Linked DNA regions of Homo sapiens: region 2 is linked to region 1. Evidence: fine-mapped expression QTL. A gene starts in region 1. The other region holds a variant in brackets. All regions are shown on one strand. Distances are from middle to middle. Region 1 holds the start of TM4SF20 (transmembrane 4 L six family member 20). Region 2 has its middle 34 kb from the start of SCYGR1.

Region 1 (2,923 bases):
GCTTGCAGTGGTATATGGGAGGCAGAACCATAGCTGAGGTATTCTGCCATATTTGAAAGCCGTTTTCCCTATACAAATGCGTCCTACCCAGGCCTACTGCACCCAGAATTCTCAGGAGAAAATCCGTAAATCTAACTATTGCAAGTGCCTCGGGTGATTCATGTCAGTTATATTTAGGAGTTCCATCCTGCACTGCTCTGCTGCAGATTTCAACAGAGGTAGACCTAGTAACAATCACCAAACTATTCAACAAGCTCGATGTCCTAGGATCTATATAATAGCTGAGTCAAAAATTCCTTGAGGCCAGAGACCCAGGATTTTAAGTCCATGTCTCTTAGCCCAACTCCCTTCAGGTACAGGCAATGCAGCATTCATGCCTCGTAATTACCATCACCCAGGCTAGTCATCATACATGGGAATGTTTCTACTCATCCCTATTAAGCAACCTGTCACTCCTATTGCATTTTCTGTAAATACTTAGAGACTGGTATGGAGCAATGGAAAGTTGAAGGAATTAATTCAGAAGGTCCCTAACTCTAACCACAAAGCTTGAAAGAGCAGCCCTACCTGTACAGAAATGTGAGAGATAATAACCCAGCCAACTTCTACTAATTAATTTATTTTTTTGCCCAGCTCTCTATCCTATACCACATAGTGTACTTTATTTAAATTACCATTCTTCACTGATGACCAATATAAATTAATGCCATACTACTGCTCCAAATTTTATCATAAGCCAAGACATAGTTAACTGCAAGACTGGAAGACAGCTTTTAGGATTTTGGTGAAATAGGCAGGCCCTTCTTCACATCAAGTCAAATAAATATCACTCACCATCAGACCTGCTCCTATAATTCCTGGGAACCACCACTCAAAGCAAGAGATGGGGTTTTGAGAAAATTGGTCTTCCTCAACTAAGCTGACAATTAGAGGTATCGCATTGAGAACTACTCCTAACAGCAGTAGAACCAGCAGGCTGAATCCATTGCAGGATGTCCATCCTTCGCAGCAGGTCATGGTCACCCCTGGCTCAGAAACGTTGTCAAAGTGGCTATGCTTGCATGGTACTATGTTGCCTTTTATCCCAATCTTCTGGTTAAAATTTAACGCTAATAAAAAATGAATAGTGGAAAATAGTTCAGAGTCCAATAGGGTAGGACATTATTATGATGACTATGATGGGAAATGAGAAAATAATTCCATATTATGATGAGGTGAAGGAAGGAAAGCAGAAAAAAAAATCTATGAGATAAATTTATGTAAGAAGATAGGCTTACGATAAGCTCCTTTAATATACTCCTTTATTAGTATGGCTTCTAAAAAGTAAAAACAAAAATATCCAGCTAAACTATATTTTCCTGTTCTATCGATATTATTACCAGCTATGGAAGTTTCTTATTTTGAAATTGTTCAACAAGAAAATGAACACGTATGAGATGTGGAGAAAGGTATTTCCTCTGCTGCAAATATTAGAGTTTATTTCAAGCCGTATGCTCACATACACAAAAGAAAATGTTTATGTCATATTATTCCAGTGTTGCAGACTAACCCATTTAGAGATAGCCCACCTAAGACATGTGAGAGCTTTGGCTAATGCTACCAGACTGAAAGATAGCAATAGGAGAGAGATTGGATGAGGAGATTATCATATTTTATTTAAGCCCTTGAACACTTACTTGGCCATGTGCAGTACTTTACATCTCTAGACTGTGGTTCCACATTGCCTCTCCACTAGCTGGTGAGCTCCTTGAGAAAAGACTATCAGTTGGCATAAGCTTTAAAATACAAAAGTTCTGGCCAGCTGCGGTGGCTCACGCCTGTAATCTCAGTGCTTTGGGAGGCCAAAGCGAGAGGATCACCTGAGGTCAGGAGTTCGAGATCAGTCTGGCCAACATGGCAAAACCCTCATCTGTACCAAAAAAACAAAAAGTAGCCAAGCGTGGTGGCACATACCTGTGATCCCAGCTACTTGGGAGGCTGAGGCCAGAGAATCACTTGAACCTGGGGGGTGGAGGTTGCCATGAGCTGAGATTGCACCACTGCACCCCAGCCTGGGCGACAGAGGGAGACTCCATCTCAAAAAACAAAAACAATACAAAAGTTCTTGCTTATGCTGACTGACCATCCTGATCTAAATGGGGTCATGGTAGTTACTGAAAGACCTAGACTTAGACCTAGACCTAGACTGGCAGAGGCAGCTTCTTGATCCAGGCTTCCACAGTCACAGAGGCAGGGTACAAAAATGTGGTGAGCCACATACTGGATCTATATGTTTCTGCCCAGAAGCGACCCACATCACTTCTGTTCACATTTCATTGGCCAAAAAAGTCACTCAGTTATGCATGAGTTCAAGTGGGTGGAAATACAAACCAATATGTCTAGGAGAAAAGATTGGGACATTAGGCAGCTCTAATCTCTACAGCGCCTTCCTTCTGCTTCTGTGTAATCCCCCGCTCAGCCCAGAGCATAGATTCAGTGAGTGCTGTTGGGAATGGTGAAATAATGTATGCAGCGGTGCAGTCAGTGTGGGCCAAAAGCTCAGGCGTAGTAGGCTTAGAGAGCAGCGCTCCACCCTGCAGCAGTGTGGGGGGCGCACACAGCCTGGTACAAGGGGCATCCCTGGTAATGGACACCAAAACAGTAGCTCCAGACTAGGGGGTCCAGTTACTGGACCTCAGTGAAATGTGAAATCCTTTGTATGAAAGGATTTGTATAAAAGGATTAAAAATAACCCACCTATTGGCTGGGCATGGTGGCTCACCCCTGTAATCCCAGCACTTTGGGAGGGCGAGGTGGGAGGATCACTTGAGCCCAGGAGTTCGAGACCAGCCTGGCCAATATGGCAAAACCCTGTCTCTACTAAAAATACAAAAAAATTAGCTGGGTGTGGTGGCAGGTGCTTGTAATCCCAGCTACTCAGGAG
Region 2 (2,923 bases), 42 kb after region 1:
CGGGGGCTGGGCCTCTGCAAACCCCATTTTCGCTTTGGAGCTGGCTCCCTCTGAAGCTCTTCCCATCTTCCCATGGGGAGATGCAAGAGAGAGACCGCACAGCCGGAGGAGGAGGAAGCCCCTCTTCTTTCCTGACCACTTTCTGCTCCTGTGAATGGCACCCAGGCAATGCTTCATTAAGAAGTGAAATGAGCATTAACCATTTCATGCTCAGCAGTAGCACCAGTTCCTTCCCGAGTCCACCACTGAAGCCAGTCTGCAATATTTTCAATGCTTGTAGAACTGGTCCCCTCACAGCCCCTCGCAGACCTCAGCTGGAACGTACAGTAGCCCTCCTTAAGAATCTGGTGCTCAGCTCCACACGGCTCTTCCTCCAAACATCTAAGCTTTAATAGTTTGAGCCTCTTCCTTTCGCTCCCCAATTCCCACTGCTTCCTCTAGTTTCTACCTCCAGGGTAGTTTTGCGTTATCTTTTTGCCATTTATGTTACCTAGCGCATTTTATGTTATCAGCAAATTTATGCTTAGTTAACAATTAAATCCTCTCTATTCAAACAACTCATGCTTTTTTTTTTTTTTTGAGACGGAGTCTCTCTGTCACCCAGACTGGAGTGCAGTGGTGCTATCTTGGCTCACTGCAACCTCCACCTTCCAGGTTCAAGCTATTCTCCTGTCTCACCCTCCCGAGTAGCTGGGACTACAGGCGCCCACCATGTCTGGCTAATTTTTGCATATATTTATTTTTAGTAGAGACGGGTTTTCACCATGTTGGCCAGACTGGTCTCCAACTCCTGACCACAACTCATCTGCCCTCCTCCGCCTCCCAAAGTGCTGGGATTACAAGGATGAGCCACAGCGACGGGCCAACTGTTGCATTTTCTATCTCCTTATTGGACCGTGATTGACACATACCTAAAGTTTCCTCTGTTTATTCATTCAGGAAATACGTAATGAGTTCCCACTGTGTGCCAAGCACTGTACTGAGTGCCAGGTCACAGGGAGGAGGGAAAGACAATAACCAATAGAATAGAATCTCTCCACACACCTCCACTTACCAGAGGGAGAGATTTAAATTCTCAATCTGGGCTGGGCGCGGTGGCTTACACCTGTAATCCCAGCACTTTGGGAGGCCAAGGCGGGCAGATCACCTGAGGTCAGGAGTTCGAGACCAGCCTGGCCAACATGGCAAACCCCCGTCTCTACTAAAAATACAAAAATTAGCCGGGTTTGGTGGCGGTAGTGCCATTGTACTCCAGCCTGGTAGACAGAGCGAGACTCCATCTCAAAAATAAATAAATAAATAAATAAATAAATAAATAAATAAATAAATAAACAAACTAACTCTCAATCTGTAATATAAATGGTTAATGCTCATTTGGCGTTTTGTTTTGTTTTGTTTTAGATGGAGTTTTAATCTTGTTGACCAGGCTGGAGTGCAATGGTGAGATCTTGGCTCACTGCAACCTCCTCCTCCTGGCTTCAAGTGATTCTCCTGCTTCAGCCTCCCAAGTAGCTGGGATTACAAGCGCCCACCACCACGTCTAGCCAATTTTTGTGTTTTTAGTAGAGATGAGGTTTCACCATGTTGGCCAGGCTGGTCTCAAACTCCTGACCTCAGGTGATCTGCCCGCCTCAGCCTCCCAAAGTGCTGGGATTACAGGCGTGACCCACCGCACCCAGCCTCATTTTGCTTCTTAATGAACTTATAGTATTGAAGTAGCCAGTGCTTCCCATTCCATCATAAAACCCAGCGATGGATGCTCCTATGTTGGAGCCCCT[C/T]GCCAAGGTGAGACTCACACTAACCAAGAGTCAGTTGTGTTTGTCCCCAGTCCTGTGTATGACATTTTTATTTATATTTCTGATTGCATTATTCAATGAAATAGTATGTAAACCAATAAAATGTGAGTGATAAAAGGATGAGCATTATTTTTTATAAAAACTTAATTATAGGAAGGTTCCTATCAACAGTAATGCAAGTAGATACCAGGTGGCTGAGAAGGGCACTTCACCTATCTTGTATTCTGTCCCCAAGCCCATAACTCCAGTCTAATCTGGAAAAAATTTCAGATAAACCTATATTGGGAGACAGTCTATAGGATACCTGGCCAGGATGTCTCAAGACTATCAAGGTCATGAAAAACAAGGAAAGACTGAGAAACTGTCACAGACCAGAAGAGACTGGGCAGATATGACAACTACATGTGAGGAGAAACCTTGGATTGGATCCTGAGGCAGACAGATAACAATGACAAAGGTGGCAAAGGCTGGGCACGGTGGCTCATGCCTGTGGTCCCAGCACTTTGGGAGGCCGAGGCAGGCAGATCACCTGAGGTCAGGAGTGTGAGACCAGCCTGGTCAACATGATGAAACCCTATCTCTACTAAAAATACAAAAATTAGCTGAGCATGGTGGTGGGCACCTGTAATCCCAGCTACTCGGGAGGCTGAGGCAGAAGAATCGCTTGAACCAGGGAGGCGGAAGTTGCAGTGAGCCAAGATCACACCACTGCACTCCAGCCTGGCAACAGAGTGAGATTCCATCTCAGAAAAAGAGAAAAAACAAAAGAAAAAAAAAACGGTGGTAAAATACTAATGAAGTCTAGAGTTTAGTTAATGATAATGTGCCATTGTTGGTTTCTTAGTTTTGACGAATGTACCAGAGTAACGTAGGTGTTAATAATTGGGAGGATTAGGTGACGGGTATTCAGGGACTCTCTGTACTATCTTTGCAATTTATCTGTAAATCTAAAATTACTGCAAAATGAGATGTTTGTTTTTAAAAAACTAAATTACATGCCTCAGAAGATTTGATAATAATGGATTGCTTTTAAACAATGCTGTTAAATTAGGCATGGGCACGACCTAACTGTAAAGGATAAGAACAATTTTTGAAATTTTGCTTTACACATCTCCTTACGTTCATGC

The links.
Region 2: its variant is fine-mapped to the expression of TM4SF20 in fibroblasts (GTEx, PIP above 0.99).

Annotation. Positions count from the first base shown.
Region 1 is chr2:227,378,252-227,381,174 of GRCh38, forward strand. It overlaps TM4SF20 (transmembrane 4 L six family member 20), which reads right to left and starts at 1,055. Exons shown (of 4, transcript NM_024795.4): 1 at 835-1,055. The coding sequence starts at 1,017.
Region 2 is chr2:227,420,335-227,423,257 of GRCh38, forward strand. No RefSeq gene overlaps it. Among named protein-coding and RNA genes, the nearest start is that of SCYGR1, 34 kb to the left of the region's middle. The variant C/T (reference allele first, on the strand shown) is at 1,779.